2 linked regions of the Homo sapiens genome follow. The protein of the gene in region 1 binds, or shares a complex with, the protein of each later gene. Each region holds a gene or a part of one and is shown on either strand. Other genes may lie near its edges.

Region 1 (3,922 bases):
ACGGTCGGAGGATAACTTGAGATCAGGAGTTCAAGACCAGCCTGAGCAACACAGTGAGACCCCATCTGTAAAAAATATACACATTTTTAAATTAGCCGGGCATGCTGGCGCACACTTGTGGTCCCAGCTACTCAGAAGGCTGAGGTGAGAGGATTGCCTGAGGGCAGGAATTCAAGGCTGCAGTGAGCTATGACTGCACCATTGCACTCCGGCTAGGGTGAAAGAGCAAGACCCTGTCTCTTAGAAAAAAAAGAAACTTAGTTGCACTATAAAAACCAGACTAAGGAAGAACTAAAAAACAATCCAACGTCTTTGTTTTGACTTCCAGTTTCCTAGTCTTCGTTTTAAAGAAAATAACACCCAGACGTGGTGGCTCACGCCTATCATCCCAGCACTTTGGGAGGCTGAGACAGGCGGATAACCTGAGGCCAGGCGTTTAAGACTAGCCTGGCCAACATGGTGAAACCCCATCTCTACCAAAAATACAAAAATTAGGCCGGGCCTGGTGGCTCAGGCCTGTAATCCCAGCACTTTGGGAGGCTGAGGCGGGTGGATCACAAGGCCAGGAGTTCGAGACCAGCCTAGCCAATATGGTGAAACCCCGTTTCTACTAAAAATACAAAAATTAGCTGGGCATGGTGGTGGGCACCTGTAGTCCCAGCTACTCGGGAGGCTGAGGCAGGAGAATCGCTTGAACCTGGGAGGCAGAAGTTGCAGTGAGCCGAGATCATGCCACTGCACTCCAGCCTGGACAAGAGAGTGAGACTCCGTCTCAGAAACAAACAAACAAACAAAAAATTAGCCAGGCATGGTGGGGGGTGCCTGTAATCCCAGCTCCTCAGGAGGCTGAGGCAGAAGAAGTGCTTGAACCCGGGAAGTGGAGGTTGCAGTGAGCTGACATGGCGCCACTGCACTCCAGCCTGGGCAACAACAGTGAAACTCCATCTCAAAAAAGAAATAATAATAAAATAAAATACCATCTCTTGTTGTAATGAAATATCAATTCATGCAGAACTCTCAAGTTGCTTTTAGCTTGCTCATATGTTGGTCTTTCTGGGGCCAAGTACATGACTCATGCCTATAATCCCAACATTTTGGTAGGCTGAAGCAGGAGGATCACTTGAACCCCGGAATTCGAGACCAGCCTGGGCAACATAGGAAGATTCTGTCTCTACAAATAACTGAAAAATTAGCCAGCATGGTGGCATGCACCTATGGTCCCACTTGGAGGCTGAAGTGGGAGAAATGCTTGAGCCTCGGGGGTTGAGGCTGCAATGAGCTCTGATTGTGCCACTGCACTTCAGCCTGGGAGACAGAATGAGACTTTGTCTCAAAAATAAAAAGAAAAGAAAAGAAAAGAAATGTCTGTCTTATAGCTAATTTGTATCTAGAAAAAAACTTTCTAGGTTCCTTACTTCTGTTTCTGGCTATGGGTCCCATTCAGTCTAAGAATCAACTAACATCTTATTATGAAATAAATGAACTTTTTGCAGAAGATAACGTGACCAAAATTGAAAGAAAATTTTGCTAATATTACTGTATACCTGAGATAACTTAATTACAGATATTTTTAAATCCCATTAGCGGCAAAAATGGAAAATCAACAAACCTGGGTTCTGTTCAAAATCATCAAGGAGTTTGTCCAAGTCACTGACAGCTGCTTTAAAATAACTGTCCATCCTACCTGCAGACTTATTCAGAATTTAATTCTTGTATGCCTAAAAAATAGAAAGTATAATAATATTTCATTTAATTACATAACAAATTTTATGCCATGTATTCCATGCCAGGAAACACAGTCAAGAAATTGACACAGAAATAAAATTTAAGAGTGCTGCTTTAAGGAATATACAATTTAGTTGGGGAAACTGCCCCTGTATATGTAAAAATGACATGAAAACCAACTCTAACAACATAATATTTGCATATATAAACTATTGTAAATTTTTAAACACTTACCTAAATAACTCATGGGTCAAAGAAGAATTCATAATGGAAAGCTAAAACTACTTATAAATACAACATATCAAACTACAAACGCATAAAAATAATGCACATAAAAACTCTGGGATTCAGGAAAAGTGGTACTTCAAGAGATACTTAGAGCCTTAAATGCTTTTTTTTTTCTTTTTTTAGTGGAAGACAATTATATTCTAACAAATGAAACTATTTTTCAGCAGGGTTTACATGTCATCTCTTTCTATAAACTTCTCTGGAGTTTTTTTTATATACTTTTTATATTATACCTTAAGTTCTAGGGTACATGTGCATAACGTGCAGGTTTGTTAACGTATGTATACATGTCCCATGTTGGTGTGCTGCACCCATTAACTCATCATTTACATTAGGTATATCTCCTAATGCTATCCCTCCCACATCTCCCCACACCACGACAGGCCCTGGTGTGTGATGTTCCCCTTCCTGTGTCCAGGTGTTCTCATTGTTCAATTCCCAACTACGAGTGAGAATATGCGGTGTTTGGTTTTTCGTCCTTGCGATAGTTGGCTGAGAATGATGGTTTCCAGCTTCATCCATGTCCCTACAAATGACATGAACTCATCCTCTTTTATGGCTGCATAGTATTCCATGGTGTATATGTGCCACATTTTCTTAATCCAGTCTATCATTGATGGACATTTGGGTTGGTTCCAAGTCTTTGCTATTGTGAGTAGTGCCGCAATAAACATATGTGTGCATGTGTCTTTATAGCAGCATGATTTATAGTCCTTTGGGTATATACCCAGTAATGGGATGGCTGGGTCAAATGGTATTTCTAGTTCTAGATCCCTAAGGAATCGCCACACTGACGTCCACAATGGTTGAACTAGTTTACAATCCCACCAAGTGTAAAAGCATTCCTGTTTTTCCACATCCTCTCCAGCACCTGTTTCCTGACTTTTTAAGGATCGCCATTCTAACTGGTGTGAGACGGTATCTCATTGTGGTTTTGATCTGCATTTCTCTGATGGCCAGTGATGATGAGCATTTTTTCATGTGTTTTTTGGCTGCATATATGTCTTCTTTTGAGAAGTGTCTGTTCATATCCTTCGCCCACTTGTTGATGGGGTTGTTGGTTTGTTTTTTTCTTGTAAATTTGTTTGAGTTTTTTTGTAGATTCTGGGTATCTGCCCTTTGTCAGACGAGTAGATTGCAAAAATTTTCTCCCATTCTGTAGGTTGCCTGTTCACTCTGATGGTAGTTTCTTTTGCTGTGCAGATGCTCTTTAGTTTAATCTGATCCCATTTGTCAATTTTGGCTTTTGTTGCCATTGCTTTTGGTGCTTCAGACATGAAGTCCTTGCCCATGCCTATGTCCTGAATGGTATTGCCTAGGTTTTCTTCTAGGGTTTTTATAGTTTTAGGTCTAACATTTAAGTCTTTAACCCATCTTGAATTAATTTTCATATAAGGTGTAAGGAAGGGATTCCAGTTTCAGCTTTCTACATATGGCTAGCCAGTTTTCCCAGCACCATTTGTTAAATAGGGAATCCTTTCCCCATTTCTTGTTTTTGTCAGGTTTGTCAAAGATCAGATGGTTGTAGATGTGTGGTATTATTTCTGAGGGCTCTGTTCTGTTCCATTTGTCTATATCTCTGTTTTGGTACCAGTACCATGCTGTTTTGGTTACTGTAGCCTTGTAGTATAGTTTGAAGTCAGGTAGCGTGATGCCTCCAGCTTTGTTTTTTTGGCTTAGGATCGACTTGGCAATGCGGGCCCTTTTTTGGTTCCATATGAACTTTAAAGTAGTTTTTGCCAATTCTGTGAAGAAAGTCATTGGTAGCTTGATGTGGATGGCACTGAATCTATAAATTACCTTGGGCAGTATGGCCATTTTCACGATATTGATTCTCCCTATCCATGAGCATGGAATGTTCTTCCATTTGTTTGTATCCTCTTTTATTTCATTGAGCAGTGGTTTGTAG
Region 2 (3,922 bases), on another chromosome or scaffold:
GCAGAAGGATTGCTTGAGGCTAGAAGTTCCAGACCAGCCTGGGCAATATAGCAAGACACTACCTCTACAGAAAATTAGCTGAGTATGGTGGTATGTGCCTGTAGTTCCGGCTTCTTGGAAGGCTGAGGCAGGAGAATTACTTGGACCCAGGAGTTTGAGACTGCAGTGAGCTATGGTTGCAGTACCACTGTAACTCCAGCCTGGGCAACAGAACAAGACCTTGTCTCGAAAATAAAATAAAACAATAAAAAATAAACTAAAAACAATTTAAATAGAAATGGAATGGTCTAATATGGAAAGAACATGGGCTCTGGAGCCCAAATGCCTGGGTTTCAGTCATATCCCCATCAGTTATTAGCACCGTGACCTTGGTGAATACCCTAACTCTTTGCCTCAGTTTCCTCATTTCCTCATCTGTAAAGTGGTGATGATAATAGTGTCTACCTCTTAGGGTTGTTCTAAGGATGGAGTGATTACTAGGCACTCAGCACAGTGCCTGACCTGTGGTAGGTTCTCAGTTAAGCATCTGCTGCTGATCTTATAGGAGGACGGAGATGAGATTCAGATAGAATGTGACCTCTAGGCATGATTTGCTAGGGGTGGGAGCAGCATCTTTCTGTCACCATTGTGTGAACAGCAGGGTCAGATGTTCCTAGTGATATCACGGGAAGCCTTGTTTCTAGGATGTAGGAGTCTCCTGTCCATCTGATTCCTTTGGCCTCTATCCCACGAGACCTCTGAGCTACACTTTTACTCATTTTCTCTAACCTAAGGGTGGGCAAAACCTCTTACTGCAAGGGAGTTAACCACAGAACATTCTCTCATATAGTCAAGTTTTACCTCATAGCTTAGGCCACATTTTAAAAAATATTTTAGTTAATTAATTATTTTTGAGATAGTGTCACACTCTCACCCAGGCTGGAGTGCAGTGGCACAATCATGGTTCACTGCAACCTTGAACTCCTGGTGTCAAGCAGTCCTCTCACCTCAACCTCCCAACTGGCCAAGAGTATAGGCGCACACCACCACACGTGGCTAATTCTTGTGCTTTTTGTAGAAATGGGGTTTTGCCATGTTGCCCAGGCTTGTCTTGAACTCCTGGGCTCAAACGATCGGCCCACCTTGGCCTCCCAAACTGCTGGGATTACAGGCATGAGCCACTGTGCCTGGCCTATTTTTATTTTTTAATACAGACAGGGTCTCACTCTGACACCCCAGCTGAAGTAAGGTGGTGCCATCATAGCTCACTGCAGCTTCAAACTCCTGAGCTTAAGCAGTCCTGCCTCAGCCTCCCAACTAGCTGAGACCACAGGCATGCACCACCACTCCTGGCTAATTTTTAAATTTTTTTTCGTAGAGATGGGGGTCTCGCCATATTGCCCAGGCTGGTCTGGAACTCCTAGCCTCAAGTGATCCTCTCACCCCAGCCTACCAAAGTGCTGGGATTATAGTCATGAGCCATCATGCCCAACCCAAGGCCACTTTTTGTAGTTGTGTTTTTGTTGTTGTTGTTGTCATAATTATTTTTGAGGGAGGGAGTGGAGAGGGGGTGGAGTTGGATAGATCAGAGTGAAGATTGTTAAATGCCTGTCAGCTCCCTAAAGTTCTTGGTAAATCCTTATGTTTGTGCATAGTTGAAAATTTCTAGGGGGATTTAATTCATGGCTTTTATCATATTCTCAAAGGACCCACAAAAGGCTAAATAAAAACCACTGATAGGGGAAAGTGGTATTCAGGTACCATTTAGCTCTTCAGCAACTCTTAAGACATTTGTTTTCCAAATTTCAAACATATAGAAAAATTGGAAGAATAATTCAGTGCTCACCCAAATTCTCACTATCTAGTATTTTTGTTTTGTTTTGTTTTTAGAGATGGGATTTACTCTTTGTTGCCCAGGCTGGACTTGAACTGCTAGGCTCAAGTGATCCTCCTGCCTCAGCCTCTGGAGTAGCTGAGACTACAGATGTGCGCTGCACCTGGCTGATTCATTTTTAAATTTTTGTAGAGATGGGATTTATTGTTATGTTGCCCAGTCTGGCCTTGAACTCTTGGGGTCAAGTGATCCTCTGGCCTCGGCCTCCCAAAGTGCTGGAAGTACAGGTGTGAACCACTGCACCCAGTGTGTTACCTAGTTTTGTTTGTTTGTTTTGTTTTTTTAAGATGGAGTCTTGCTGTGTGGCCAAGGCTGGAGTGCAGTGTTGTAATCTCAGCTCACTGCAACCTCCCCCTCCTGAGTTCAAGCGATTCTCCTGTCTCAGCCTCCTGAGAAGTTGGGATTACAGGTGCCCACCACCATGCCTGGCTAATTTTTGTGTTTTTAGTAGAGATGGGGTTTCACCATGTTGGTCAGGCTGGTCTCGAACTCCTGACCTCAAGTGATCCACCTGCCTTGGCCTCCCAAAGTGTTGGGATTACAGGCATAAGCCACTGTGCCCGGCTACCTAGTTTTGATGGATGTATTTCACCTTATTTGTTTTCTCTCCAGATAGATAGATAGATAGAGAGAGATCCCACAAGCCCTTTGAAAGTAAGTTTTGGACATCACTTTTCCCGGACACATCTCAGCATGTGTTTCCTAAGAGTGAGGACATTCTACACAATCACAATGTTATTATCATACCTAAGAAAATCTACAATAATTTTCCCCTATCTTTTATGACTTTTCCTTTTTTTTGCAGACTCAGATCCAGCTGGGGTTCTCATATTGCATTTAGTTGTGTTCTGTCCCTTTAATCACTTATTTATTTGTTTATTTATTATTATTATTATTATTTTTGGAAACAGACTGGAGTGTGCACACAGCTCACCACAGCCTCAACCTCCCAGGCTGATTCTCCCACCTCTCCCTCTTGAGTAGCTGGGACTACAGGCGTGGGCTACCATACCCAGCTAATTTTTTTTTTTTTTTTTAATTTGTAGAGATAGGGTCTCATGTTGCCCAGGCTGCTCTGGAACTCCTGGGCTCAACAGTCCTCTGACCTCAGCCACCCAAAGTGCTGGGATTACAGACTTGAGCCACCATATCCAACCTGTTTAATCATTTTTAATCTAGAATAGTCCACTGCTCAACCCCCTCCTTTTACATGACATTAATTTTTTGAAGAGAGTGGGTTCATTGTTGCCCCATTTTCTGAATTTTTCTGAGTGTTTCCTTTTCGTGTTCATCTGTCCTCTGCATTTCCTGTAAAAGCAATCATTTGCTGAGTATACAACACATCTGATAAGGCCCCTACCATTCCTTAATGCTTATTGTTTGAGGCTGGGGTCACTGGCATGACCCTGCCGTCGGCACACAGTATGTTGGAGGCATGTTTGGAATGTGAGCGGAAGAGCAGCTAATGTTCAAGGCAGTGACATTTCGGCTGAGTCTTAGTAGAGAAAGTAGGGACAATGTAGATAGGCATTGATACCTGAGAGCAGCAATTCCCAAGTACTATTGGCTGGTTGTCCCTGGGAGGTGCCAGAGGAAAATCCTTGAAGGTTGTGGGGAGCAGGTTGTTTATTTTTGTAGAGACGGGTCTTGCTCTTTTGCCCAGGCTGATCTCTAATTCCTGACCTGAAGTGATCCTCCCACCTTGGCCACCCAAAGTGTTGGGATTACACGCTTGAGCCACCTCACCCGGCCAGGAACAGGTTGTGCAGGGTCATAAACTCTGTGCCAAAATTAGATTTGGTCCTAGAGGCTTTGGGAAGCTACTGCACACATTCTTTTTAGATTATATATCATTTCCTATCATCTCACTGTCCTGAGATAAGCATGTTTTGGTCTATCTTCTCCCTAAGGGTGTGTGTGTGTTTCAGAAGGATTTAAAGCTGGAAGTGACCTCAGAGTTGTGCTAGAAATAACAATTCTGGCCACTTGGTAAGGGACGGATTTGAAGGGGTGGGTTGTCCAGGACAGAGGTGGCATGGGGAGAGAGAA

What was found.
Region 2: the proteins of ZFYVE16 (region 1) and PTPN23 are in contact, whole or in part, in a crystal structure (PDB 5MK0), measured with the Homo sapiens proteins. Residues at the interface, in NP_001098721.2 of Homo sapiens: Asp2, Tyr4, Phe5, Ala8, Val9, Leu12, Asp13, Leu15, Leu16, Asp17, Phe19, Glu20, Gln21; in NP_056281.1 of Homo sapiens: Phe62, His125, Glu137, Glu138, Lys141, Val142, Cys144, Thr145, His146, Gln148, Cys149, Leu189, Lys192, Ser193, Asp196, Arg198, Lys199, Phe201, Leu202, Arg205, Ile206, Ala336, Leu338, Leu342, Asp348, Ala350, Val351.

The regions. Positions count from the first base shown.
Region 1 is NC_000005.10:80,431,905-80,435,826, reverse strand, and holds part of ZFYVE16 (zinc finger FYVE domain-containing protein 16), read right to left. Parts: intron 1,719-3,922; 5' UTR 1,680-1,718; coding exon 1,610-1,679; intron 1-1,609.
Region 2 is NC_000003.12:47,391,014-47,394,935, forward strand, and holds part of PTPN23 (tyrosine-protein phosphatase non-receptor type 23), read left to right. Parts: intron 1-3,922. UniProt on the Homo sapiens protein: Plays a role in sorting of endocytic ubiquitinated cargos into multivesicular bodies (MVBs) via its interaction with the ESCRT-I complex (endosomal sorting complex required for transport I), and possibly also other ESCRT complexes.